3 separate regions of the Homo sapiens genome follow, and regions 1 and 3 are each linked to region 2. Evidence: fine-mapped expression QTL. A gene starts in region 2. Each other region holds a variant in brackets. All regions are shown on one strand. Distances are from middle to middle. Region 1 overlaps NCMAP (non-compact myelin associated protein). Region 2 holds the start of RCAN3 (RCAN family member 3). Region 3 overlaps RCAN3 (RCAN family member 3).

The links. PIP is the estimated chance that this variant, and not a neighbour inherited with it, causes the effect.
Region 1: its variant is the best candidate, but not a certain one, in a credible set for the expression of RCAN3 in tibial nerve (GTEx, PIP 0.69).
Region 3: its variant is the best candidate, but not a certain one, in a credible set for the expression of RCAN3 in liver (GTEx, PIP 0.68).

The regions. Positions count from the first base shown.
Region 1 is chr1:24,576,089-24,586,176 of GRCh38, reverse strand. All of the region lies in intron 1 of NCMAP (non-compact myelin associated protein), which reads right to left. Among named protein-coding and RNA genes, the nearest start is that of NCMAP, 25 kb to the right of the region's middle. The variant C/G (reference allele first, on the strand shown) is at 5,125.
Region 2 is chr1:24,498,157-24,508,244 of GRCh38, reverse strand. It overlaps RCAN3 (RCAN family member 3), which reads right to left and starts at 5,409. Exons shown (of 5, transcript NM_013441.4): 1 at 5,095-5,409. RCAN3AS (RCAN3 antisense RNA) reads left to right here and starts at 5,863. Exons shown (of 2, transcript NR_144360.1): 1 at 5,863-5,897. RefSeq lists silencers at 3,360-3,560, 5,067-5,566, 5,848-6,020 and an enhancer at 6,624-6,723.
Region 3 is chr1:24,538,476-24,548,297 of GRCh38, reverse strand. RCAN3 (RCAN family member 3) reads right to left here. Exons shown (of 5, transcript NM_013441.4): 5 at 7,258-9,822. It overlaps NCMAP-DT (NCMAP divergent transcript), which reads left to right. Exons shown (of 3, transcript NR_109781.1): 3 at 8,422-9,024. Among named protein-coding and RNA genes, the nearest start is that of NCMAP-DT, 13 kb to the left of the region's middle. RefSeq lists an enhancer at 6,945-7,239. The variant C/A (reference allele first, on the strand shown) is at 7,054.

The sequences.
Region 1 (10,088 bases), 78 kb before region 2:
TGCCTCATCACTGACCAGCTTGATAAACTGAGCCGCTCTTTCATTTGTAAAACAGGGATAACAGCCCCTGTCTCGTGGGGTTGTGAGAATAAATGAGATACCATAATTGCCCAACAGAGTGCCTGGAGTGCTCATGCCAGTTCCCAGCCCTTCTTCGCTTCTCCCTGGCTCCAGTCTGTGTTCTCCCTGCTCTCTTTGGAGCTTGAATTCCTTGTTCTCTGTCTGGTCAAGTTTTGGGCTGCATTTGGTCAAACTCAGGTATAAACAGGGAGGTGAGGGAGTCAGACCATGAACGCTGGTGTCCCAAGGAGGGGATCTGAGCAGGGATTCACCAGGACCTCTGAAGGACCTGATCTTCCTCTCCATCTCCACTGAGAGCAGAGACAGAAGAAATAGTGAAATCTCCCCCAAAGAGAAAAAAGTCCTGATGGGACCGGTGGGACACAGGGGCTGTGGCTGGGCAGGGGAAGAGCAAGCTGTGGATTCATAACCTGAGACTCGGAAGACCAGGATTTCCCTTGTCACTCATTTGCTACCTGATCCTGGAAAGTCCTCTCCCTTCCCTGGACCTTGGTTTTCCTGCCTGTAAAATAGCCCAGTTTGGAGATCATCTCTAAGGGCTTTTCCAACCAGTGATTCTGTTACATGGAACTGTTCATAGCTTCACAAGAACCAGTGTCTTCCAAAAGCTTATTCTTCTTTGTAGATATGGACTCAGGGGATGTGAGGAGAGGGAAGTCAGCGTGAGCACATCACTCTGGAAAGCAGCGATCCTTCCTAGAAGGCACTAGAGACTGGAACAAACCGAGGCAGATTCCATGAAGGGGCTTTGATTTGGCAACAGCAGTGCACAAGAAAGGAAACCCGGGAATGAACTTCCAAGCACTCTGTAGGGTACATAGTCACCCGAGCCGCCTGAATCCTTCATGGCCATTTCCTTCACCCTCTATTCCTCTTGGATCCCTTATCATAAGCTCCCCACCCCGTCTGCCCTGTCTGTTCATGGCTCTGTGTATCACAGCTCCCAAAGTTGGGGTAGGAATTCTGCCGTGTGCTCCCCTGAACTGGAGGCCATACACAATTACATACTGAACATGTGTTCCTTGTAGTTGGTTCCCAGAAATAAGGGAGCACATTTTCTGCTCCATTTACCCATCTATTCTTTCATCCTGCTATCCACTCATGCCCCCACCCACCCACCCGCCCACCCACTCACTGGGCACACAGTCCTTCCACCCGTTCTTCTGTCCATCTGTCCTCCCATCCATTCAATCAATGCCCACCCTGTGCATAGGACTGAGAAGACGCAAAGAGGGCCGTGGGTCTGTTTTAAACCAAAGAACAATACATAAATAAATAAAATAAAAACCAAAAAACCAGAGGGGCCAAGGGGATTATGTCCTGAGGAACTCAGACCGAAAGAATGAGAAAAGGAATTGTTTCCTTTCAGAATCTTTTCTTCAATCACATGTACTGGGCATCAACCCCACCCCACCGCCCACCCCATGCCTAGCCCAGCACTGACCACAGAAAGGTGCCTGATCAATATCATACTGCAGTCCTATGGCAAAAGCCGCAGCCTGTGGCTCCAGAAGTCTGGGTTTCAGGCCCACCACACACAGACTTCAGGGGAAGTCTTACTTCCCCACCCTGTCAAACGGTGGCTCAGATGTCCTTTGCTCTGATTTTTGTGACCCACATTGTAAGAAAAGGGGACTCCAGGAGCTTCTAACCCAAGACCTGCAGATATGATAAGCTGAGTGTGCTAAGAGTTATAAATAGAAACCCCAGCTGAAAGTGGTCACAAGGCTTACTTTGCTGGTGCCAAAAGGGTGGCACACACAGTGCCAGAAGTCGGTGGGAGGAAGAGACCCGTGGACATTGTGGTGGAGATTGACTGAGAGCTAGAATGTGACCTGTGGCTTCCGTCTACCTCTCAGTCTCTGGGCTCAAGCCAAGGACCCAACTCTTGAGAGTCCTCGACCTCCATAGGAGCTCCCATGTAAATCTCCAGGTGTCCCGCTGTCCCTGTGGGGCGGGGGGAGGGCACAGGGTTAATGGGTTTATGCCCCTCAGTGAATATGTCAGAGGATAATAATGCCACCTCGATATTCTAGGCCAGGAGGGAAGGAAGCCCACACTCAAGCAGACCCTATGCAAGTGCCAGGCACTGTGCTTTCACATGCTTCCCCATTCAATCCACACAGCGAGGCAGGTCTTTTCATCTCCACTGTGCTGATAGGAAACGGAGGCTCAGAGAGGTTAAGGGACTTGCCCAAAATCTAACAGCAGGTCAGTGGAGGAGCTGAGTCTCAAACTCAGATCTCCTACTCCAAACCGTCCTCGGCAATCCTGGTCCCCGGGAGGTAAGCAGTATTCCTGGGGACACTCTGATGGTCAGTGACCCTGCTAGGGAAGGATTCTGCTCACCTGCTCACTTTTTTTTTTTTTTTTTTTTTCTGAGACGGAGTCTTGCTCTGTCACCCAGTCTGGAGTCCAGTGGCGTGATCTCAGCTCACTGCAACCTCCACCTCCCGGGTTCAAGCAATTCTCCTGCCTCAGCCTCCTGAGTAGCTAGGATTACAGATGTGCGCCACCACACCTAGCTAATTTTTTGTATTTTTAGTAGAGATGGGGTTTCACCCATGTTGGCCAGGCTGGTCTCGAACTCCTGACCTCAGGTGATCCGCCCGCCTTGGTCTCCCAAAGTGCTGGGATTACAGGCATGAGCCACCGTGCCTGGCAACTCTCTGCTCACTTTTCTTTCTACCTGTTGATATTTTGAGCCCAAGAGGTACAGCCAGGCCTCAGAGTATGGCAGAGTTTCTCATCCTTGGTACTACTGACATTCAGGCCAGGTAATTCTTTGGTGTGAGGGGCTGTCCTGTGCATTATAGGATATTCAGCACCATCGCAGCATCCTTGGCCTCTCTGCTCACTAGATGCCAGTAGCATCCCACCAGTTAGAACAACCAAAAATGTTACAGGACATTTCCAAATGTCCTTGGGAGACAAAATTTTCTCTGCTTGAGAATCACTGGAGTAGAGCTATTTGGCCTGCCTCTTAACAGTTTCCTATTCTCCCTATCCAAGAAGAACTAGATAAGAAGGAAAATGTCCAGTCTGTTTTCATACCTGTGGATAAACAACCAATAACCATGATGATGACGACGATGGCGATGACCAAAAGCACAATTACTGCCATTGATCAAGTGTCTTTTACGTGCCAGTTACCATGCCAAGTACTTTGTATATGTTTTCTCCATATATTATTCCTATTTTACAGACATAGGAGCTGAGGCTCAGAGAAGTTAGGAAACTTGCCTGAGGCATCTGTGCTGATACATGGCAAAGCTAGGATCTATACGTTTCCTATTGCTGCTCTAACAAATTATTGCAAATTTAGTGGCTTAAAACAACACACATTAATCTTCTTTCAGTTTAAGAGGTCAGAATTCTAAAGTTGGCCTTAGTGGGCTAAAATCAAAGTGTTAGCAGGGCTGTGTTCCTTCTGGAGGCTCTAGGGGAGAATTCATTTCTGGGCCTTTTCTTGCAAGCTGCCTGCATTCCTTGGCTCGTGGTTTCTTCCTCCATCTTCAGACCAGCAGCGTAGCATCGTCTTACCTCGCTCTCTCTGATCTCTGCTTCCATCATCACATCTCTTCCTCTCTCTGTGACCCTCCTGCCTCTCCCTTATAAAGAACCTTACGATGACATTGGGCCCACTCAGCTAATCCAGGATAATCTCCCCACCTCAAAGTCATGAACTTAATTACATCTGCAAAGTTCCTTTTGCTGTGCAAACTAACATATTCTGAGGTTTGGGGGATTAGGATGAGGATGTTTTTGGGAGGCCATTATTCAGCTTCCTACATAGGAGTTGGGCTCTTATCTGTCTGATCCCAAGGTGTGCACTCTGAATCCACTCCTGCTTCATCTACACTGCCTTTACACGCAGACACACAGGCCAAGCACCACGGGAGGCACTGAGGTGGATCCGATGTGTGCAGGGGGTGGTCGGCACGAGCAACGAATCAGGAGGTTGCGCATGAGAAGGGCTGTGAGAGACGGACAGAGAAAGAGTCCTGGAGCCGCTAGGCCAGCTGGGGTAGGGGAATAGGGAGTGGGCTCAAGAGGCAACTGGGCAGGCCTGATTCCTTCCCTGCTGAGCAAGCTGATTTCATGTAAGTCTTAGCACCAACTTACCTCTAACTTCACTTCAAAGGTATCCATAGTTCATCCTGTCCTGAAGGACCGGTCCAGCCCAGCCCCTGCCAGCCAGAATTCTATCCCATCTGTGGGATTTATTTGCCTAGTTAACTCATAACCAATCTCAAATCTTCCTTTCCAGAGTTCCTCCCTGCCAAGGGCTTAGAAGGTCTTTGGTCTTGTAAGGACTTTAGTCTTGTAAATGTCTACTAAAGTAGACTGTCTGCTTTAGGCCCCTCTCTGGCCAGTTCTGATTTGCAAGGATGTCTTTCAGCTGTCTGGCCCCTCCATGAGCCTCATCAATCCCTTTACAGACTAGAGGAAGTGCGCTGGGTTGGTTAGCTGGGCTCTCTTTCCCAGACAGGCAGAGCCTTGGACTTCTCCCAGCGACTCTCAGTCCGTGCAGTAACTTAGGGTGGTTTCTCTAGGCTACTGAACACAATGAATTTCCTGCCTGCAGGGAACTTACAGGTAAGAAGGATGAATTCCGGTTGGCCTTATCTTGACATAAACAAAGTTTGGGATACATCTTTTAAACAAAAGAAAGCAGGGGCCGGTCACAGTGGCTCATGCCTGTAATCCCAGCATTTTGGGAGGCCAAGGCAGGTGGATTACTTGAGGCCAGGAGTTCGAGACCAGCCTGGTCAATATGGTGAAACCCCATCTCTACTAAAAATACAAAAATTAGCCAGTCGTGGTGGCGGGTGCCTGTAATTTCAGCTGTTTGGGAGGCTGAGGCAGGAGAATCGCTTGAACCTGGGAAGTGGAGGTTGCAGTGAGCCAAAATAGCACCACTGCTCTCCAGCCTGGCATCGCAGCGAGACCTCGTCTCAAAAAAAAAAAAAGCAGAAAGGACTTCTGGCTGGTTCAGCAAACTAGATGGAGCACGACTATTCATCTCTGCTTCATCCTGAA[C/G]CCCCTGGCACATGACAGTGAAGGAATCAAGAATCAAGAGGCGTCAACTCTCAAGGCCAAAGGGTACAGAAGAGAAAACAACCACACTGGAGAGACGCCAATCCAGGTTTGAAAGCCGGAAAAGCCGACGGCTGAGTATGACTTAACAGCCTGGAAAAGGCAAAGGCCTAAACCTACAGACTAGGAAACCAATTAAAGCTGATTGCACTGAAGAAGCCCCCCAGACTCAGGAGTGAGTGGTGACAGAGATCACCAAACGTCAGGGTGCCAGGTGGGGCTAAACAGAGGAAGACTGCCTGGGCGCAGTGGCTCACGCCTGTCATTCCAGCACTTTGGGAGGCTGAGACGGGCGGATCACCTGAGGTCAGGGGTTTGAGACCAGGCTGGAACTTGACAAAACATGGTGAAACCCTGTCTCTACTAAAAATACAAAAATTAGCCAGGTGTGGTGGTGCATGCCTGTAGTCCCAGCTACTCAGGAGGCTGAGGCAGGAGAATCGCTTGAACCTGTGAGGCGGAGGTTGCAGTGAGCTGAGATCGCACCACTGCACTCCAGCTTGGTGACAGAGCAAGACTCCATCCCCCCACCCAAAGAAAGAGGAAGACAAAAGTTAAGGCGCAGCTCCACTCTGCCCCCCTCCACCCCTTCCCTCCGTCCTCACCACTGTGGGCCTCCTCCACCCTGCAGAACAGAGTGAGTTCTGCCCCCGTCTGCAGAGGCAGCCAGGAGGAGGTAACCCTGCACTGCCTGACATGATAGCCACATGTAGCCATGGCAAGTTAAAGAAAAATTAATTACACTTAAATACAATTAAGAATGTAGTGTCTCCGTTGCATTAGCCACATTTCAGCTGCCCAGTACCCGCCGTGGCTGGTGGCTCCCGCATTGGACAGCACAGGATGGTGTCAAGTCATTTTGGGCAGTGCTGCCGCAGGCTGTGGCCCTCACAGTGTGGTCCATGGATCAGCAGCACCGGCAGCTCTGGCGCTTTGTTGGGAATGCAGAATCTCAGCTCCACTCAGGCCTGCTAGCCAGAACCTACCCCTCGGCCAGACCCCAGGAGATTCATAGGCACATTTGTCTGGGAAGCTCAGCTCTGCCAAAGGCTAATCTCTGGCTGAAAATGGGAATGTCAAAGCCTAGGCTCTGGGAAACAGACCAGCCAAAGGGAATAGACCTACAGATACTGATTGACTAGAGAATCTTCTAATACAATGGCCAGGTTCTGTCCAGTCGGCCTATGGAGAGGCTGCTAGTTGACAAGCTCTGCCCACCTCACCTAGAGTTTTGAACGGATTTTTGTTTCCTTATTTATTTATTTTTGAAACAAGGTCTCACCCTGTTGCTCAGGCTGGAGTGCAGTGGTGCAAATCATAGCTCACTGCAGCCTTGAATTCCTGGACCTAAGTGCAGCCTCCTGAGCAGCTGGGACTACAGGTGTGCACCACCATGTCTGGCTAACTTTTTTAATTTTTAGTTTTGTAGAGATGGGTCTTGCTATGTTGCACAGGCTAGTCTTGAACTCCTAGACTCAAGTGATCCTCTGGCCTCAGCCTCCCAAATTGCTAGGATCACAGACATGAGCCACCACCCCCAGCCTATGTCTTACTCTTAAATAGGAACAGATAGCCAAGGAGAGGAGAAAAGACCTTTGAGAGGAGAAAAGCCCCAAGCATGACAGACAGCAAACAAAACAATGAACAGATGGAGGCATTTAAGGCAAGTAGAGACAATGCACAGAGAAGAAGAAAACATTGATATATTCAGACAGCTAAGATATTGCATCTATAAAACAAGAACAGGATGCTATGAGAAAGGACACTTTTGGGCATGAAGTCTTTAAAAAAAAAAAAACCCCCACCCTACCCCATGCACCTTTTCCCAGGAAGCCCCTGGAGGATGCACCCACTAAAGTGAGCGAGGGGTGAAGCAAGAGAAGGGCAGGGATTCCAGGGACCAGGGGCTCCAGCCTCCAGTAGGAAGGAGCAAGAAGATGCCGAGGTCCGCGCTGCCGGGCACAGTCTGCGGGTAACCAGCCTGACTGGGGTGGGGGAGGTTCTGTCAGCCAAAGAAAAAATGAAACCTGTAGATTTTCTGATGTGTTTGTCTAGATGGAAAGGAGATCTACTCTTCTCTTCTGTTGGAGAGTTTGCCGGATGAGTTTATGATAGAAAACAAAGCTCTCAGTCAGGTGTAGTGGCTCTTGTCTGTAATCCCAGCACTTTGGGAGGCTGGGGCAGGAGGATTGCTTGAGGCCAGGAGCTTGAGGCCAGCTTGAACGGTATAGTGGGACCCAATCTCTACAAGAAATAAAAATAAAAATTTGCTGGGCATGGTAGCATGTGCCTGTAGTCCCAGCTATTTAGGAGGCTGATGTGGGAGGATCACTTGAGCCCAGGACGTTGAGGCTGCAGTGAGCTGTGATTGTACCACTGCACTCCAGCCTGGGAGACAGAGCAAGAAACCGTCTCAAAAAAAAAAAAAAAAAAAAGAAAGAAAGAAAAAGAAAACTAAGCTCCCTCCCCCAACAGGCTTAGGGATTAAAACTCCTCCTTTCTATTCCAGCTACCCTCCCTCCCACCCCACTCCCAATTTCTCTTCACCACACCACACACCCTCTGTGGAGGCTCTAGGAAGCAACTCCGTGTCCCAGGATCCTGGAGACCCCAGTTGGAAAACTCCTGTGTCCATTGCCCTCTCTTCTACAAATGGGGAGACTGAGGGCCAGCAAAGCCCCCGGGAGCACATAGACAGAGGAAGGTTCATTGGTAGTTTATTTGGTACAATTTTTTTTTTTTTTTTTTTTGAGACAGTGTCCCACAGGCTGGAGTGCAATGGCATGATCTTGGCTCACTGCAACCTCTGCCTCCCAGGTTCTCGTGCCTCAGCCTCCTGAGTAGCTGGGATTACAGGCACATGCCACCATGCCTGGCTAATACTTTTGTATTTTTAGTACAAACAGGGTCTCACTATGTTGCCCAGGCTGGTCTCCAGCTCCTGGCCTCAAGTGATCCACCCGCCTCAGCCTCCCAAAGTGCTGGGATTACAGGCGTGAGCCATTGTGCCTGGCCTATTTGGTACATTTTTTAGACCTCTTTTCTAATTCATTCAAAACAAAATGCGCAACAGCAGCAGCAAGAACCAAACCACCCCTAAAGGAGCCATGGCCGGGAGGCGACTTGTAAGACCCCCGACCCCCGGCCCATGCATCTCTCCTTTAAGCTTTCCTCGCAACCACCCTGCTGTCGTAAGGCACTAAGTCTCCCAAAAGCTCGAACTGAGGTTTCCGAGTCACTTCATAGTCACCTACAAAAAGCAAGACTATGTAGATGTAGTTAATATCTATGCCATGAACAGGGCAACTGAAAACTTCTGAGAAAAAAAATTGGGGATGGGAGTGCAGGAAAAAATTCAACTCCAAATGAGTGCCAGCAATCTCTTTGGAACCAAGTGTGTTGACTTCCAGAACCAAGGCCAGGCCGGGCATGGTGGTTCAAGCCTGTAATCCCTGCACTTTGGGAGGCCGAAGTGGGAGGATCACTTGAGGCCAGGAGCTGGAGGCCAGCCTGGGCAACGTAGTGAGAACCCATCTCTACAAACGAAAAACAAACAAAAAAACCAAAAAAAAAAAAAAAAAAAAAAAAAAAAAACAAGGCCAGTGCCTTCTTAGAAACTCCAAAAATCTGAATTTATCCCTAATGGATCTTTCAGTGGTCTCGCTTTTGTTTCTCTGTCTCTTCCTCTGCCTTATCCAAGGGCTTGGCTAACCACAAAGTGTTTGTTATTAATGAGTTAAGGATGACAATTCTCTGGGAGTATCTGCATTTTAATATGAAATTCTAGGAAATCTAGTGCTCTATAATTTTAGCATGTGACATCCTTTTTATTTTTTATTTTTATTTTTATTTTTTTTGAGACGGAGTCTCACTCTGTCGCCCAGGCCTGGAGTGCAGTGGCGCAATCTTGGCTCACTGGAACCTCTACCTCCTGGATTCATGTGATGCTTCTTCCTCAGCCTCACGAGGAGCTGGGATCACAGGCATGCACCACCACGCCCAGCTAATTTTTTTGTGTGTGTGTGCTTTTAGTAGAGACAGGATTTCGTCATGTTAGCCAGGCTGGTCTTGAACTCCTGACCTCAGGTGATCCACCTGCCTCAGCCTCCCAAAGTGCTGGGATTACAGGTGTGAGCCACTGTGTCCTGTGTAACATCCTTTCTTTGAGTCCCAAGGTCTTGGTCTATGGGGCTCACTACCTCACCTACTTAACACGGCCATCTTGAAAACTCCAACAGAGAGGCCTGAGATGGGGGGCAAGAACCCTGGGCTGGAGTTAGGAATCCTGGGTTCTAGTCTCACCCCTGTTACTTACTTTCTGTGTGACCTGGGGCAGGCCACTTGTTCTGTCTGGACTGCAGTTTGCCCTCCTGCAAACTGAACAGCTGGGGACCAGGGACCTCCCTCTCTGGCCCCTTCCTCCTTGTGACTCTTCCAGCCTCTCACTTGGTTCAGGACACCCTCCCCGAGGCTTGTTTGCCTCCACACCCTCCATTCCAGAAGGAACACCCCTCCCCTTTCCTGCCAAGCCTGGGCCTGGCAGCCGCTGGACTCCAGAGAGGACAGGAGTTGGGGAAACAATCCCAGCCGTTCAAGCTGCCCACGGTGTGAGCTGGCCAGTGGCCAGTCACAATAGGCCCAAAGATACAGAGGGGCGTTTGTCTGGGGGACCTGCGGTGTCATTTAAACCTACACTCTCGTCTTGGCCTGCCGCCTGTCTTTTCTTCCCACCCTCTCAAGCAGCAGTGCCAGCCCCCAGCTTTGTCAGGAGGTGGGATGTGGATGCCGCACAGACCTAAGTGGCCTTTCTGTGGCTGGGAAACTGGACCAAGAAAGGCAGGTCGGGGGACAGGCAGGGGAGCCATCTGTGCAGGGTGGCAGTGGTGAGGGTGGAGGATGGGGACAGC
Region 2 (10,088 bases):
TTGGTCTTTCCTGCCTACATACCCTGAAAATCAGTCATCCATATGGGTACATTCAAATTTATATACCAAGACTCACTCTCAATCCTGAGTTCTAGTCTTGTATTTTTCACTTTTTCTTTCTTTTTTTTTTGAGACGGAGTTTCACTCTTGTCCAGGCTGGGGTGCAGTGGCGCAGTCTCGGCGCAGTGGCGCGATCTCGGCTCACTGGCGCAATCTCGGCTCACTGGCAACCTCTGCCTCCAGGGTTCAAGCGATTCTCCTGCCTCAGCCTCCCGAGTAGCTGGGACTACAGGCACATGCCATCACACACCTAGCTAACTTTTTGTATTTTTAGCAGAGATGGGGTTTCATCATGTTGGTCAGGCTGGTCTCAAACTCCTGACGTCAGGTGATCCCCCCGTCTTGGCCTCCCAAATTGCAGGCGTGAGCCGCCACCACGCCTAGCCGTATTTTTCACTTTCTATTGAATATATCTATCTGGGTGGCCCACAGGTACAACAACTGTTTTTAACTTACTCATTTATCGTGCCAGAAATCTCCAATCTGGAAAGGGGCCCTGCGGAAGCGGGGCAGGGAGTGACAGTGTATCTCACTGTGGCTTTCATTAATCTTTTCTTCAAGACAAAGTTGTCAGGTGGACTTAGCTCTTACAGTGCTTGGTTCATTTTTCTGTTATACACTTACATTGTGATTATTTGTTTACAAATCACTCCTAGCTACAAGACTGTATCTGTGAAACCCCAGGCCCTGGCATAGTTTCCCGCTCACAGTGTATGCTTAATAAGGGAGGCTGAATAACAGCAGGTAGTATTTTAGTTACCCCACTGATATGTCAGCACAGACAAAGGTAAATTGAATTCTGCATGGGATTAGAGATAGCTTCCCAAGGAGGCAATGGTGAGACTTCAAGGATGAACAGAATTTCAGGAGGAAAAGAATGGGGAGCATTCCACACAAAGCCAGCAGGACATGAACAAAGGCAGGAAGACAGTAGGACCAGCATGCACAAAGGTCACGTGATCTGGCATGGCTAGGGTGCAAGGTGTTTGGTGGGGGTGGCATGAGACAGTCGGAAAGGCAGGTATGGGCCAGGTTGCCAAGCAAGTAGGGTTACAGAGTTTTGACACAAAAACCATGTCAATATCAGCATGCCATTGTGGGTTTTTAGGCAGGGAAATGATAAAACCAAGTGCAATTTAACTTTTAGTATCTCTAAAGGTGGGCTGTCTTTGTATCTTATCTCTTAGAGGCACTAATGTTTCTATCCTATTCCCAACCCATTAAAAAGAGGTAGAGAAAATACTGTGCCCGGGTTTTTGGAGGCTGGTAAGTTGGGGAGCTCTGGCTGACTAGATTTTGAAATTTGAGAAAGTCAACCTATTCTTGATAAGATTTGTTTGTTTCAAGTTCCCTCGTCTAACCCGTAAAAAGATTTTAAAAAACAGAACACAGGAAATAATCCTTCACCTGACTTAAAAAAAAAAAAATTCTTAGAATATCACACCTTCATTTCCTGTTTTCTACCTTCAATTTTGAGTACCTTTTTTTTTTTTTTGATATAACTTCAAACAGAAGTTATAAGAATAGCACAAGGAACTCGGGTATGCTGTATCCTTTACCCAGAGTCACCAATTCCTTCTGTTTTGACCATCTGCTTTATCTTTCTCTATTTTTATAGACATGCATTTTCCTGAGCCATTGAAAGATGGAGCATACCCCTTTTACTTCCAAATACTTCAGTGTATAAGAACAAGATCATTTTCTTATATAACCCATAGGATAATTATCAAAAACAGGAAATTTAACATTGATATAATACTATTATCTAATACATAATTTGTCAAATGCATAATCTGGATTCAAATTTTATCAGTTATCCTAATAATGTCTTAGCTATTTTCCTTCAATTTTTCTTTAGATTATTGTCAAATTATTTGTCGTTTGTCCCAAGATATCTATATTTCTTTCTTTTTCCTTTTTTAGAGACAGGGTCTCTGTCATGCGGGCTAGAGTGCAGTGGTATAATTATAGCTCCACTCCAACTATCACAAGACTAAACTGTTCCTCAGTTTACCAATCCAGGGAACTCTTGACTGGCCCAGCAGAAAGGGCTGAACCGATATCCTCCAGCTCCTGTAAGCAAAAGTCTGTGCTAATCCAGGTTTCCCGTCATCTCCAGCACAACTCTAACTACGGCTGGCTTCTGGCAAATTGTTTCTTCATGGAAATATCAAATGAGTGGAAAAACTCCAAGTAGCATGACCATCTGCTCTGCCACAACAGGCCTGTGACAAAAGTCATCTATCAAGGCAAAATGTCAAGCACATGGCATGGATCTTGCATTTTCTGTTCTGATCAGGAAAACGCAAATTCTTTCTCCTCCAGGATTAAAATAATAATAATTTTTCAAATTAATAGGCTTCCCAACTTGGTGAACATTTCAGTATCTTAGCTAGATGTACTTTTCACTTTTTTTGTATGTTAAAAATGCTACCAAACAATACTGGAAGCAAACAAGTGCTCCATTATCAGCTCTACAAGTGTCCTGCTGTATAACCTTGGGAAAAATCCCTTGGTTTTTCTGTATTTATAAAATGAACAAGATAAAATACATAAAGTGTATAAAATATATAAAATAAACATAGGTGCTTTGGGCTACTAAGTTCCTTTTTTAAATTTCTAAATTAAAAATTTCAACTAAGTTAAACAAAACAAAACACTTGGACTGGTGTGGTGGCTCATGCCTGTAATCCCAGCACTTTGGGAGGCGGAGGCAGGCGGGCTGCCAGAGCTCCAGAGTTCGAGACCAGCCCGGGCAACATGGAAAAACCCCGTCTCTACAAAAAAACACATGGTGCACGCCTGTAGTCCCAGCTACTCAGAAGGCTGTGGTGGGAGGAATACTTGAGCCTGGGAGGCCAAGGCTGCAGTGAGCTGTGTTTGCACCACTGCACTCCAGCCTGGGCAACAGAAGGAGATCTCAAAAAAAAGAAAAAAAAAAAAAAAAAAAAAGAAAAAAGAGAAAAAAAAAAACAAAGCAACAACAAAAAGCCACTTAGGATCGTCAATGCGAAGTTCTGAACGGCTATCACGAAGCCCTACCTTCTATTCTCTACTCATTTACCACTTACAGGTAGAACTGTACTATTTTTTAGTAGCTGTGTGTAAGAAAAATTTCGTGCGACAGTAAAGTAAAACGGGTGAAAATTTGATTTTTGTATTTTGTATGTTTCAATGACCCATGTCTTGTTTTCACAGATAACCTAGAATTGGTCCTGTTATAATTGAAGTTCCACTCCACCAGGAATTTGTCAGCAAGAGACAGATAGAAATAAACAACAAAAACCAGCCTACAAAACATATGAAAACAACAGGTTTTAAAGAATAACTGAAGTTGAGATATATAAGACTGATGCTATTTGTTGTGCTGTGTATAATTTCTTTTCCCTGGATAGAACCTCTACATTCTAGGGGAAAAGTGGAGATTGCTGTCCGACCTCCACCTTCTGTGTTTTTTTTCTAAGTAACAAACGGTGTTGAACTTTAGAGCTTCCATTATTTCACAGGCTTCAGGCTAATGGATTTCCGCGTCACACTATTTTTCATGCTTTAAGTCCTTCAACCAACAACTCTAACACCATATAAAATCTGCTCTTGTCTGTTACCTAATGTTCACATGTTTGAAACCTTTACAAACGTTATATTTCAACAGCAGGAAAAATCTTGTTTCCTAGAAAAGCACTGAAATCTGTTTTCAGGCTAAGAGAGAAAAGGTTTGGCTGGGTGCGGTGGCTCATGCCTGTAATCTCAGCACTTTGGGAGGCAGAGGTGGGCGGATGGCTTGAGCCCAGGAGTTCAAGAACAGCCTGGGCAACATAGTGACACCCAATCTCTACAAAAAATTAGCCGGCATCTGTAGTCCCAGCTACTCAGGACGCTGAGAGGTGGGAGGATCGCTTGATCCTGGGAAGTTGAGGCTGCAGTGAGCTGTGTTTGCACCACTGCACTTCAGCTGGATGACAGAGCGAGGCCTTGTCTCAAAAAGAAGAAAAGAGAAGAGAAGAGAAAAGAAAAGGCAAGGCTTGCCAATGCAGTAAAATGTAAAGCTGATGACCTGGCTAAAGAAGAGACTCAGTTTTCAAGCTTTTCACAGTCTTCCTGGATGGAAAGCCCATTTCTAGATCAATTTAAATCCCCACCAAAAAGAACACATTTGTGTGATGCATATCTGGCTCCTGAATTATGTGTTTACAGAGTTTAAGATATTGAACCAAAGCCAATGAAATAGTCTTAAAACAAATTACTTTACATCGTATGTAATCACAGCTACAGATAAATCAATTGCTTCTTTTGCCAAATAGTACATCAGAGACTTCTATGAAAAGTTCAAATAAATGTGGTGTACTTGGTGGCTTCCAACAAGTGGAAGCGAATATTTTTGGCTTTCAGCACTACAGGAAAACATCACTTTAAATAATCCTTGTTTGTATCTGAAACACGGATCTGGATTGCTTCCTACACTAGAATCCTAATCTCTAAAGGAGATGATCAGATTTTGCACGGAAGCTAGAAGAATCAACCTGGAACAGATCACTCCTGCCCTACCTGTCCAGGCGGCGGACAGAAGCAGACAGACAAGTTTCAAGAAGTTAGGGAGTCACTAATGCGATGGTGATCCACGCACCGTGGGGGAAGCGGGGCAAGGGAGAAAGACAGGGGGCTTCCACCTTCCAGGCGCCCCTACACCGCTCCTGCCTTCACAGGCAGGCTGGGCCTGTCGGCTTTTCAAAAGGTCAAACACACTTGGTGGGAGAAAATCGTTGGTGGAGAAGACAAAACATTTTTGTTTTGTTTTCCGGGACACCACCCTCGAGGCTGCCAGACTAGACCCCGCGCGCGAGAAGGGTGCGGCGGGAGGCGAGGTCGCGGGAGGCGAGGTCGCGCGCGGTAGCATCTCCCGGTCCCGCGGCTCGGAGTGCCCACCCCTCCCGGACTTCTCGGGGCGGCTTTTTTTTTTTTTTTTTTTTTTTTAACTTTTCATGCACCACCCCCCCCACCCGCCCCGCCCCGCCCCGCCCCGCGCTGGGTGCAAACCTGCTGGAGAGGCCGGGCGCCGTGGGGCCTCACCTGCACGCCCCGCCGCCGCAGGACGGGAGCCGGGAGGGCAGCGGACGGGCCCGGGCTGCCCGACGGGGCTGCGGGGAGCCGGACGGCGCGAGCTGCGGGGCCTCTGGGAGCCTGGTGGGCGGCGGGCGGGGCCGAAGGCAGAGCCGGGAGCCGCCTGCAGCAGCAGCCTCGCCGCCACGCCCTCGACGCCGGCGAGAGCGGCCCCCTGGGCTGGGACTAGGGCGGTGTCCCGGCTGAGCTAGGCTGCCGGCGCCGCGCGCCCGCCTCGTCCCCTCCTGTTCTGGCAGGGCGCGCGCACGGCGGCGCAGGCGCCAGAGCCCAGGACAAGGCGGGGACCCGGGCGGGGACCGGGGCGGGGGCGCGCGGGGGCCGGGGTGGGGGTGTCTCGCCGCGCGCGCCCTCCTCCCGCTCCTCCGGGTTCCTGGTCCCCAGCCTGTGGGGGGCTTGGGCTGTAGCGCTGGGGCGGGGGCTTTAGATCACCCCGAAAACAGGACCTCTGGCGACCTTCTCGTTTTCCACCGGGAGCGGAGAGAGCCGATCTCCTTTTCCTGCTAGCCCCGTAGGACAGTCCCCGGAGCAGCTCATAGGAATATGACGAACGTTTACTCAGGGCTGGTTACTATGTACACTGCGCCCCGCGCGCGGCGAGTTTACCTCGGTTCACCTCCCGGCAACCGGCGGCCCGGATATTATCAGATGCTGTGGGCTTCCCGGCGCCTCATTGCCCGAGGAGAGGCGGCCGCAGGTAGCTGAGCTGGAGCTAGCACAAGGTGTGGGACGGCACAGGCTGGGTCCCGCCCTGGCGGGTACAACCCTCTTCCCCTTACCCACTCCTTCCCCTCCCCTCCCATCCCCTCCCCTCCTCTCCTCCCCACTCGTGCTCTTCTCCCTCCTCCCGCTCTCCCTCCTCCTCTTACTCCTCTTCACCCTATGCCCTATCTACCGTTGTCATACAATCCACATGTTTAATGCTTTCTTTTTCGTGTAAAAACCCTTCCACGCAGTCTTGCTTGTCTCCGACGCCTTAGGAGACCATGGGACATGATTACAACTATTACGCAAAGGGAAGAGCCGGGGTCTAAGCTGTTGAGCGAGTTTCAGTGATAGGACCGAGGCTTACATTGGCAGGTATTATTACCACCAATAACAACTATGATGACAAAGCTCCTGAGCCCAACTTGGAAGGCAGCTGGTGTCTCTTCCCTTAGCCGGCAGAGAAGGAAGCAGGGTCACACAGCAGGGAAAATAACTGGGCTCATCTCCCACCTACAAGGACGCGCAGTCACGCAGTGGTGCGCACCCGTAGTCCCAGCTAACTCAGGAGGCAGAGGTGGGAGGATCGGTTGAGGCCAGGAGTCTGAGACCAGCCTGGACAGCATAGCAAGACTCCGTCTCAAAAAAAAAAAAAAAAAGGAATGTGCAGTTAGAAGAAAATCAGCTCTCATTACCCACTCAAGACCTTTCAGAGGCAAAGTGAGGCACAGTGAAGCTTAACATCAAAGGCACTCAGCGCCTGCATCATGGGGCAGGAAGATGGACTAAAATGTGTACAGCACATCTAATCCCTGTTAGATGTAAACTAAGAAATCAGGGTTGGATTATGACCCCAAGGGCTCCCCAGCAGTTGAGCCCAGCATAGTCACCGAGGTATGTCCAGCAGATCGCCCCTCCTACTTCCTGCTTGCTGCTTCTGTGGTTCCTGCTGCCTCCAACCGTGCTGCTCCTGCTCCCCATCTTGTCTTAAACTAAGTTCTTCACTTTCATTCGTTTAACTAATATTGATGGCAAGCTGCTTCTTTTGTCAAGGTCACTCTAAGGACTATAGTAATTATTTTTTCTCTAAATTCCTCTAACACAGCAACTTTTGCAAAAATTGAGGGTTGTTTTTTTTTTTTTTTTTGGTGTTTTTTTGTTTGTTTTGAGATGGGTCTGCTCTGTTGCCTAGGTTGGAGTGCAGTGGCACAATCATAGCCTCAACCATCCAGGCTCAAGTGATCCTCCCATCTCAGCCTCCTGAGTAGTTGGGACTACAGGCACATGCCACCATGCCTGGCTAATTTTTCTACTTTTTGTAGAGACAAGGTTTCACAATGTTGCCCAGGCTGGTCTCAAACTCCTGAACTCAAGCAATCCTCCTGCCTTGGCTTCCCAGAGTGCTGGGATTATAGGCGTGAGCCATTGCACCTGGCCAAAAAATTGAGTTTTCACATCAAATGAGATTGGAAACAGCTGCATTCCATAGCCCTGCCTGGAGATGTCTGATGCACGTTCACACAAAAAAAATGGCCCTGAGAGATCCTAAGTCAAACAACCAGATTAGCTTAATTTAGTTTCCCTGAGGTATTAGGCCCTGTGTGGGTGTTGGGCTTGCAAGGGTAAGGTCCATAGAGATCTGCCACCTGAGGAGCTCACAGATGGGGGAGACAGTGATTGTGATACAGTTGTATTTGTGCACTGAGACATTTGCAAAGTGCTGACAAAGCAGAGGAAGAAGTGAGCAATCCTACATGATGGTTCAGGGAACGGGGTTCGCATTTTCCAGTATTATTCAAGATTCTCTTTTTTTCATGGAATACATCAATCAGACTGGGTTAAGCAGCAAATGGAATGCATTGACTCACATAATAGAAAAGTTTGGGGCTTCAGGCATGGCCGGATTCAGGGGCTTAAACTACGACATTAGGATTAAGTTTTTTCTCTCCATTTTTTTTTTTTTTTTTTGAGACGGAGTCTCGCTCTGTCGCCCAGGCTGGAGTGCAGTGGCGCGATCTCGGCTCACTGCAAGCTCCACCTCCCAGGTTCATGCTATTCTCCTGCTTCAGGCTCCCGAGTAGCTGGGACTACAGGCGCCCGCCACCACGCCCGGCTAATTTTTTGTATTTTTAGTAGAGATGGGGTTTCATCGTGTTAGCCAGGATGGTCTCGATCTCCTGACCTCGTGATCTGCCCACCTCGGCCTCCCAAAGTGCTGGGATTACAGGCGTGAGCCACCGCACCCGGCCTCCATTTCTTGACTCTATTTCCTGTTGACTTTGCGTTCTTAGGCTTCCTTTTCCCCATGAGATGGCAGAATGGCTGCTTACAATTTCAGATCACACCCTTTCCAGCAGAAAGGGAGTTTCTTTTCCCTGATGCTGTCAACAAAAGTCCCAGGACTACATCCCATTGGTCTAACTTGTGTTACCCGTGCATCACTAAACCACTCTCCTGAGAAGGGGCATGGAACATTCTGACAGCTCCTCACAAATCGCGTGGACTGAGATTTGGGGAGAGGTGGCTTCCTGTGCTAGATCATTTCTGTTGGCCCTTCCAGACCTACTCTCCACCCTTTTCCTTCCTGATTTGAACCTCAAGAGGCCAACCTGCATGGACTGCTTCCACAGATCCCTTGTCCTCTGACTTACAGTTGAATTCACCAAATAGAAGACATTGGAAATGAGACCCGAGGGTTGGAGGAGGAGGAAGGTAAGGGTATTATTCCTCTGGCCCCTGCCCTTCTGGGTCGCTGCAGGTTGGCTACATGTATTTATTGAAGCTTCTGTCAACTGGCCTTCTTCACACAGCTACTCTCTCCTAGTTCTAGTAAATTCTCCCTTCTCCACCTCCAGAATTATCCACCCTGGAGGTGATAATGGCTCCCCTCTGTTGCCTGCCACAGTGTATCACACCATCAGCCCTGCTTTTTCCCTCAACCCTGCCCACACATCTGTATGTAACCTTTACTAAACCCCCTTTAGATTAATCATCTGCTGGGATGCTGATGGTTACATTCAACAAAGGAGATTCAAGTCTCTATTACCAAAAGAAAGGGGAATGAATCAAGGGCAGGCAACAGCACTATGGTACTGATATTGGTTTGGAAGAAGTATCACCATAGTGCAGACCACAGATGACTGTGGCTTGGACAGGGTCGTGATGGGGGAAGCAATGAGAAATGGTAGGATTCTGGCTATATCTCAGAGGCAATGTTAACACAGTTTACTGAGGAATTGTATGTAAATCATGAGCAGTAGAGAGGAGCTGAGGGTGGAAGTAGTTGGAAAACATGCATCTGGAGCCTAGGAGTGAGCTCAATGAGTAGTGATTTGGGAGGGAGGCGCGTTAGTTAGTTGAAACCACGGGCTCAGATGAAATGACCCGGGGAGCCCACGTAGAATAGAACACAGAAAGGGCAAAAGGCAGAATCTAGAAGAACAAACACCAGCCTTTCCATGGTGAACAGAGGAAGAGTTGCCATCTTGTATCTATCGTCTAGATCGTGGGCAACTCGATAACTTGAGCGCAAGAACAGAATCTTCCACATCCTTCCTTTTTACCATCGTGTCTAGCGAGGTGATGACCACACGGTGGGTAATCAATGCTTGTTATGAATGAACTTGACAGTTCCACATTTCTAACACTCCCTCCCTCTCCTTCTCATGTGAGGTTTGAGTTACAGGCCGAGAAAAAGAGAAATTGATCCCTGTGGCTCAATCCGTTGAAACCTATGCCCAGGGTGCTAAGCATTTCGCTGCCCTGGAAAACTTCAGTAGAACCTCTCAGACAATGCCACAGATCCCGAGTAGCACACCTCTTGCCTTTTAGGAGAATTTCCAGACCAGCGATTTCATTTCAGATTTTCTTATTCCAGATTTTCTTATTCTTATTTGAGTAGATTTAACAGTAAATATCCTAACAAATCCTTATTAGGTTTGTTTTGGGTTTGTGCTATGAAAATGATACAAGTGGCAAAAGATCTCCATCTCACATGCATACATTAGTAGTGGAATGTAAAAGGATGCAACTGATTTTTGGAAACTGCCAGTTTATCAAGCTAAACGTACACCTACCCTATGACCCAGAAATTCCACTCCTAGATGCAGACTCAAGAGAAATGTAGGGAAATGTCTACCAAAAAAGAGGCTGGTACAAGAATGCTCTTAACATCTTGGCCGGGTGAGGTGGCTCACGCCTCTAATCCC
Region 3 (9,822 bases), 40 kb before region 2:
GTTGTTTCACATTCAACATCAAGATCATAAGGAAGCTCTGTGGTAAATATCATAAAAACTCTCTGTCTGAAACTCTCTATACCAGAACTTACTTTGGGTACATTTATCAAACATGCTTAAAATCTACTTCTCGTATCTTGCCTGGAGTCAGAATTGAGTGGTGAAAAAAATGAAGACCAGATAAAAATCAGTGCTTACTTATTAGGTCTCTAAACTCGGACTAATTCACCAATGAATAAAATACTCTCCCCTTTTGGTCTTTATAAAGTTTCTTGAGATATTGAAGTTTACTGTGATTGAAGTTCACTGTGATAGCTATTTTATTTTTGTTTGCCCTGCTTTCATTTCCCTTTCTTGGGTAAAAGCCTTGCCCATCTGGCCTCAGGGATGGGCAGGCAACCCAATCTGGCCAATGAGAATCCCACTGCAATATGGAATCATAGAAAGAAGCTCTCCTTCCACCTGAGTTGTTGGTTACCATGTTCTCTGCTGCGAGCGGACATCCTTTTTGCAGTAAGAAGGAATTTGGTGGACACACAAAGAGAGGTAGAGACAAAGACAGCTGAGAGATGAAGAAAGAGTCCTTACCCTATGCCCTTCTAAGCTCTTAACAGAAGCATTTAGAGCTATACATTTTCCTCTCTACTTTAGCCCCCTTTTTCTCCTACTACATTGTACCAGGCTGGTCTATGACCAATACCATATGGCAGAAGTGATGGTCTGTCATTTCTGAGATTAGGTTATAAAAAGACTTCATCTTGGGCTCTCTCTCTTTCTCTCTCTCTGATCACTCGCTCGGGGGAAGCCAGCATCCATGTCCTGTGAGCAGGCTTCTGGAGAGGCCCCTGTGGCGAGGAACTGAAGCCTCCTGCCAACAGCCATGTGAGTGAGCAGGGAAGCAGACTGTCCAGCTGAAACAGGAAATTCCCCTTGACCTCTTTGTGAGCCTTGCGACAGGGGTGCCTCACTTACTTATCCCACAGCTCTCAACCCCTCGTGGGATGGGGAGCACAGGTGAACAGGTGCAGGAGCTGGGGCAAGTGCTTTTGGGCACTGGTAGGAGCAAAACTCCCATGGCAGCATCTAGAGGGGAGTACCTGTGACCCCCCCCCCCAAGAGACTGGAGGAGTGTTACAGTGAACACTCTTTTTAAAAATTATTTATTTATTTATTTATTTATTTATTTATTTATTTTGAGACAAAGTCTCGCTCTCTCACCAGGCTGGAGTGCAGTGGTGTGATCTCTGCTCACTGCAACCTCTGCCTCCTGGGTTCAAGCGATTCTCCTACCTCAGCCTCCTGAGTAGCTGGGATTACAAGCGCACGCCACCACGCCCGGCTAATTTTTATATTTTTAGTAGAGACGGGGTTTCACCATGTTGGCCAGGATGGTCTCGATCTCTTGACCTCGTGATCTGCCTGCCTCAGCCTCCCAAAGTGCTGGGATTACAGGCGTGAGCCACCGCACCCGGCCTACAGTGAACACTCTTTTAGCTTCTGCCGTTCACAGACGGCTTAAGTGTTAAACAGCTCAGTGGGCCCTCTCTCCACCTTTTCACGTGAGGTGGTTGCTTTCCACCAGCGAGGGCAGAGGGTCAGTGTGACAGCCTTCCGTATCCCAGGCTCTTGTCTGGATCCAGAAAAAAATCAGGTCACATGAACAAATTGAAGGATAGTAAATGCGGGGGATTTTATTGCTGCCAGAAGCGGCTCTCAGATGGAAGGAAAGCTGGAAAGGGGATGGAGCGGGGAGGTGGTCTTCCCCTGAAGTCTGGCCATCTCCAATCGGACTTTTCTCCAAAGTCCCACTGTCAAGCCGTCCCTCTGAAGTCAAGCTGCTTCTCTCTGACATCCGGCTGCTTCTTCTCTTCTCCCCTTCTCTGCTCTCTGCCAGTGGAGCCTGGGGTTTTTATGGGTACAGGATGGGGATTGGGTGGGCCAGGGGTGGTTTTGGAAAGGGCAACATTTGAATGGGAATACAGGGATTTTCTAAGTTTGGGCCATGTTTCCAGGCTTGAGGGTGGAGCTTTGCCAGGGTCCCTGTCCTTTTCAGCCTAGAATTTCTCTGCCTCCTGTCCTTATCACAGCCTTGCTGATGACTTGATGGCAACCTCTGAGAGACCCTGAGCCACCACTGTCCAGCTTAGCCACTCCCAGATTCCTGATCCTCAGAAACTGTGAGATAATGTTTTCTTGTTTTAGGCTGCTAAATTTTGGGATAATGTGTTGTGCAGCAATAGATAAGTAATACACCCCTTAATGGATTTTTATTAAACCTGCAGTTTAACTGTCTCCTTTTTCTCTAGCATGAACAACTAGTTAACTTCTCTCCGGGAAAACACACCTTAAAGTGTTCAATTCATATAATTGGACACATCTAGAGACAGGAACTAAGCAGGAGGGTAGCTCTGTGCCCTTTCACAATAGAAGTCATTAGTATACAGTATCTAGGATTAGCAGGATGCCCAAGGGCTGCTTCTCATTTGCAAAGGAGACAAATCTCCATTCTAGACTTTCCAACAGTTGTTAGAAATATCTAATGGGATAGAATAAATAGCCTGCCAAGTAACTGAAGTTATCAAGGAAATAAGTCAGAGGAGGCTAGTCCATTTAGTCCATAAAAGACCTTTCATTCACAGGGCTTACTCAGGCAATTTCTGAGAAATCATTTTTGGTTTAATTTCCTCCTTTGGGGGAAGGAGCCTGGTCAAATCTCTCAGGACAGAATACTGTATAATTTCCCATCAAAGATCTCAATTATTCAAAAGATATTTAAGAAAGATAGCACCAGGCCGCGAATTAACCTGATTACTTCTTTGAACCAAAAGGAAATGGTGAATCTAGAGTCAAACCACATGCAACGCTCTTCATTTGTAGCTCAGAGAAGAATGAATGATACAGTATATTTTTTTCCATCCATATGGGAGTACATTTAATAAAGAATTTTCATCTACATAATGTAGTAAAGTAAAAAAGAATCTGTTAACCCTTTAAAGTCTATCAAAAGGTGATATAAAGTCTCATAGTAAATCAGACTTATTATCCTTAATCAATTATCCTGCAATTATCCTTGATCAGTGTGCAATTATCTTGCACATTATCCTTGATCTGTGCAAGATGCCTCTTATGTTTGGAGATATATGTTTAATGTGTATCTTTTTATTTATATGTATTCTTGCAAAGTGCATTACTGTCTTTGTGCAGTACTTCACATAATGCAAATGTTAGATACATCTTCCTCCTTTTGGCACTCAGCTGTTTTCAAGATATATCCATGTGGCTGTGTATATGGCTACTCTTGCTGCATGGTTCTCCATAGTGTTCATTTTCCAGTTGCAAATACCAGTTTGTCTCCATAAATAATGGTGCAATGAACATCCTCAACATAGCTCTTTATGGCCCTGTGTGAGAATCCCTTTGGGATATTCTTGGGACATCTCTCTCTCTGTCTCATCTATCTCCAGGAGCAGAACTGCAGAGTCAGAGGTTTTGTTCTTACTTAGATGACCAAGGACTGCCAGTTTGTTCTTCAGAATGACTAAACTAGTCTATACTTCCACCAGTTTTATATCAGATTTCCTATATGCCCTCCCTCTGGCTATACTTGGCATTAATTGCTTTTACATTTTTGAGAATCCAATAGGTATAAATGGCATCTTGTCATTTTAATTTGCACTTTATCTGATTACTAGGTTTTAGTATTTCTTCATAGGCTCATTGTTTTCCTTTTCTGTCAATTACTTTTCATATCCTGTAGCCTATTTTTCTATTGGGCTGCTTTTCCTTGTCAATTTGCAGAATCTCTTTGCATTTTATAGTTATTTCCCCTGTGTTAGTGTCAGAGGTGTTCAAACCAGGGTGACTCCATCTTGAATAGGGGCTCAGTAAAATGAGGCTGAGACCTACTGGACTGCATTCCTAGGAGGTTAGGTGTACTTAGTCACAGGATATTTACAGTTAAGGGTACAAGTTAATAATGTTAATGTTAATGGGAAATAATAGACCCAGGAAATGTCCTGATGTCCCAATATCTTAAGAACAAAAGCATTTTTAGTTTAAGAATATGTTTCGCTTTAAAGATAATAATATAGATGCTTGTGGAAGACAGCAGTTACGCAAAGATTAACAGTCCTTTGTCACAAACCTTTGTAGTAGAGCACATCTCCGCCATGATTTTTGCTTTATCTTATATATAAACAAGCATTGTATCTTAGGCAGGCACGTTCCCCCTTGTGCTTTTGGGAACGCCCTACTCTGTTTATGGAGTATCTATTCTTTCACTCCTTTACTTTACTTTCTTTTCTTTTCTTTTACTTGAGACACAGTTTCACTCTGTCATCCAGGCTGGAGTGCAGTGGCACAATCTCGGCTCACTGCAACCTCCGCCTCCTGGGTTCAAGCGATTCTCCTGTCTCAGCCTCCCAGGTAGCTGGGACTACAGGTGCGCACCACCACGCCTGGCTAATTTTTGTATTTTTAGTAGAGACGGAGTTTCATCATGTTGGCCAGGCTGGTCTCGAACTCCTGATCTCAAATGATCCACCTGCCTCAGCTTCCCAAAGTGCTAGGATTACAGGCGTGAGCCACCATGCCTGGCCCATTCCTTTACTTTCTTAATAAACTTGCTTTTACTCAGCTAGGCACGGTGGCTCACGCCTGTAATCCCAGCACTTTGGGAGGCTGAGGTGGGTGGATCACCTGAGGTCCAGAGTGCGAGACCAGCCTGACCAACATGGAGAAACCCCGTCTGTACTAAAAATACAAAATTAGCCGGGCGTGGTGGTGTATGCCTGTAATCCTAGCTATTCGGGGGGGCTGAGCAGGAGAATCGCTTGAACCTGGGAGGCGGAGGTTGCAGTGAGCCGAGATCACACCATTGCACTCCAGCCTTGGCAACAAGAGTGAAACTCCGTCTCAAAAAAATAAAAATAAATAAAATAAACTTGCTTTCGCTCTACTCTGTGGACTCATTCCGAATTCTTTCTTGCATGAGATCTAAAAATGCCCTGTAGGGGTCTGGATCAGGGCCCTTTCCGGTAACATCAGGACTGCAAATATTTCTCCCTATTGTGTGAACATTTTCATGGCATTCTTCATTGAACATGAATCATTGATTTTGATGTAACCAATTAGAATTCTTACCTTATAGCTTATGCTTTTAAAGTTTTATGAAGTCTCTCCCTGCCTCTAGGTCACAATGATATTCTCCCACAATTTGTTCTATTAGTAATTTTACATTCTAGATTTAGGTCTTTAACTTTTAATTTTCAGCATTTAACTTTTCCAAACATTTCGGACCACAAACTTTTCCCAAGTAACTTACTTTGAAATACCTTACTGAAATATCTAATCTACAAATTGCTTACATTTATACTTTCTATGTCTCAGAAGACCCGGGGAAGCTTGGCAAGATGAGATCTTTCCTGTGTGTGCAAGAATTTTAATCTTTTCTTCTTCTAGATTAGAACATTTTAATGTGTTCATTGAGGGCAGGAACATAGTGGTGGCTCACTCCTGCCCTTTAAACATACTTCTCAGTGATAATAGGACTCTGATACATCTGATACATACATTGTATGCGTTTAACTTGAAGCCAGTCTATTAGGTAAATTACTTAAATCTTGATTCTTGTATTTCCTACTCTGCATTAAAAATTTTGTTTTTGGCCGGGTGCAGTGGCTCGTGCCTGTAATCCCAGCACTTTGGGAGGCTGAGGTGGATGGATCACCTGAGGTCAGGAGTTCAAGACCAGCCTGGCCAACATGGTGAAACTTGTTTCTACTAAAAATACAAAAATTAGCCAGGCATGATGGCGTGCGCCTGCAGTCCCAGTTACTCGAGAGGCTGAGGCAGGAGAATTGCTTGAACCCGGGAGGCAGAGGCTGCAGTGAGGTGAGATTGCGCCACTGCACTCCAGCCTAGGCAACAGATTGAAACTTGGTCTCAGAAAAAAAATTTGTTTGTGTGTGTGTTTTGTCCTAGGTTCTTTGCAGTGGTTTTCCAATTTTCTGTTTTAGCCAAGGAATCCTTAGCTCAAGTGGAAAACATGCTAGGACCTTTAGGTATAGCAAATAATAGGAGAGTTGAAGCAGGAGTGAAAGGCCCCAGGAACCTGGAAGCATGGCGCCCCCTGGAGGCAGCCCCACAGAACACAGCTTGGAAAAACTTCAAAGTGGAAATGTCCTCAGCGACTCCGCTTTAGTTTTTTAAAAACAAAAAAGGCCAGGTTCGGTGGCTCATGCCTGTAATCTCAGCACTTTGGGAGGCCAAGGCAAGTGGACCGCCTGAGATCAGGAATTAGAGACCAGCCTGGGCAACATAGGGAAACCCTGTCTCCACAGAAAATACAAAAATTAGCCGGGTGTGGTGGTGCACACTTGTCATCCTAGCTACTTCGGAGACTGAGTTGGGAGGTTGGGGCTGCAGTGAACTGTGTTCATGCCACTGCACTCCAGCCTAGGCGACAGAGCAAGACCTTGTCTCAAAAACAAAACAATATCAAGAACCTTTTTATCCAGATACATTTATCCAGAAAAATTAGATTTTGGTGTAACAAAGTAGTGGAGTGTGGTAGAAAGAATGTCAAGAAATGGGTTCTAGTCCCAGGTCCATGACCATCCAGATGTGTGCATTTGGCAATGCCTCTGGGGCCACTTTCTTGTAAAGGTGTGTTGGGGGTGGGGTTGGGATGGAGGAGGAAGTGGAGGGAGGCAGGGGCAATAGAGGGGTGTGTCTGGGTCTGTTCTGCTGAGCTCTCACAGGGGTTGAACTCAGGTCCCCATTCTTCCCCCAGCCCCTTGAAAAGGAGCAGCTTTGTTTACCTTTCCTTTTTGTAATAGTTTTACATTGGCTTTGTGTAAGATTTCATTTGAACAAAGAGCAGAGTCCTATGGCTTAAAAATAAGTATTCGAAATCCCACTGCACTAGATAACCTCTACTGTCATTTATAGTTCCACATTTTGGAGATTTTTTTTTTTTAACCGAGACAAAAAGTAAGTCTTTACCCGGAATAAATCATTTTTAACCAAAGGGGAAACCAGGGTAAAAGGTTT[C/A]TTGGGGAAGAGCTGAAAGTGCAGTGGTTATTTACAGAGTGAGCAGTGACTCACCACCTTGAACTCTGGCACTGCACGGCATTAATGTTCAACAGGACTCTTGTGAAAGGAACAAACACAATATTGCACTTCTCTGTCTTATTAGCTAAATGTAAGTGATGCGTATTGAAAATACTACACACAAAAAAACTCAACTCAATGGACTGATTTAAAAATAGTTACTAACTTTATTTGTATTCGTTTTAAAAACAGAACTTGTTACAGGTAATCACGAAGCTTCCAAAAAAAAATTACATTCTGCTTTTGTCATCTTGATAGGACAAGGAATGTTTAGATGTCCTTAAAACACAGGGTAAAGTTGACAAATAACAAACTACTACAAACTATGGATTGTCACTTCAAGCACACTAAAATGTGGAATACATGTACATAAATTACTGACCAGTTTTTTGCAATACAAAGAGTATGCACTACAGCTTATATACCATAAAGGTAACATGCCCCAAAATATAACAGAAGATCACAAACACGTTCGGAGAAAATAATAACTTTGACTCTTGGGTTCAATTAAGATTGAAGTGAAATGATTGGGAAAGTTTTCTGAAACTTGAAGGGCACGCACATTATAGCAGAACCGTCAATCAACAATCACGTGGGGTTGAAAAGCAGCAAGAAGAATATGGCACGGTAACAGGGGTAACCACCTTTCTCTCTCCTCAGTCCCCAATTTGAGTTAGGAAGATTGAGGACTAAACAGAAAACAGTATTTAAAAACATGTATTATCTGCATAGATAGAAATCTTCCATTACGATGAGAGTGAACATTCGGTCAAAGCTATGCAGGAGTGCCAAGAGTCTGCAGGATATGATTCTGTTTCAAAAGGAAATATATAGGTTTACATCCAGACAGACCACATAACGAATTTAGTGAAAGATCTTTACGCTGTTATTTAAGTGGGTAGAGACGCTGACTCAGCCCCAGGTTAGTTCTTGACCTTGGCTAAAAACTCTACTTTGAACGTGATGATTTTTATAATCTTTGTCAGTGAACCCAGCAGTTGTTGCTTTCAGTTGTCTTATGGATTGTACATTTGGTAATAAGAAAACAGTCTCCAAATGATTAACATTTTCCCCTGATTCACAATGAAACAACGGCATTCTGACGAAGATGATCCATACACCGAGGGGAGTTTAAAAGACAAATAAGTATTCAGCGAATTGTAGGACAAGGTTCATAAATCTTTTAAAACTTTTTAAATAGTGAGTTTCTGTAACATGGACTTACAGCTCCAGCTAGGAAGCAACTATTGCCCCATCTTTTGTTCCTTTATATTGTCACCCCAATTATAAATAATTTGTTTCTTTTAGTACAGGAAGATATAAATGCAAATGTGCAAAAAAAGGAAGAAGGAAAGATGGACCAAGTTCACCTGTTTGGTACGTACAGGGTCCACAGCTCTGCAGAAAGGGGAGAAACCTGGTAGACAGAGGGCCTGACGCACCATAGCATTGAGCACATTTTCCACTGCTTAATTATGTGTGAGATTTTCCCTTTTAAAATAAATCTATGGTCTGTGAAATAGTCTGTATAAAAATATGAAGCCTTGAATAGGCCAGTCATAGCAGTTCCGTCTTGAATAGAACTCAATTTTACAAGCACGGAGTGAGAGTATCATTCCACTGCAAACTCTTTTATTTCCACAACATATTAGATCTCATTCTGCTTTAGTAGAGTTACCTCTTAAGTACGACTATTAGTCATTTCATTAATATGAAAATCTGGGAAGGCCCACATAAAATACCAACATAATTGCTGGCTACCAAGATAAAATTATTTAGGCAGATTCCAGCCCCAATGGTTCAATGATAACAAAACTACAAAACATGGGACATCAAATTCATTAATAAAATTATTAAGTCACCTCTTCCATCGAATGATGAGATTTTTCTTATTCACTGTTTCCCATCAGGGAAAAAAGAATCCTCCCACCTCATGCCTTTTTTTTTTTCTGATGCCAGGAATTAGTATTCATTGCCTCTTTAAGAGGCCAATGCAAAAAAAGGTAGAAAAAGCCCTAGCCCAGGAGTTGGGATTGCCAGTTGTAGTCCCTGGGTTGCCTTGCTGGGGGTGCCTAAGTCAGTGCCATAACCTCAGTTTTTCTAATCTGTGTAACATGGGGATAGAGTATATGATTTCCAAGGTCACTTTCACCTCTGTGATTGAGCCTCTAAGAAAGCCAAATCTTTTCACTTTGTAATCATGACATTTTTAAAAGATGGAGTTAATATGAATGGGAAACTTTTTTTTTTTTGAGCCAGGGACTTGCTATGTTGCCCAGGCTGGTCTTGAACTCCTGAACTCAAGTGATCCTCTCACCTCAGCCTCTCAAATAGCTGAGACTACAGGCACACACCACTGCACCTGGCTAAAGACTATATTCTTAAAGAATAAAAGTACTGCACTTCACCTCTATCTCCTGGTATCTCTTCAATTCAAACACACCATTAATGACTACAATATTTTATTTAAGGCCGGGCGCAGTGGCTCACGCCTGGTTAATCCCAGCACTTTGGGAGGCCAAGGCAGGCGGATCACTAGGTCAGGAGATCGAGACCATCCTGGCTAACGTGGTGAAACCCCGTCTCTACTTATAAAAAAAAAAAAAAAAAAAATTAGCCGGGCGTGGGAGCGGGCGCCTGTAGTCCCAGCTACTTGGGAGGCTGAGGCAGGAGAATGGCGTGAACCCGGGAGGCGGAGCTTGCAGTGAG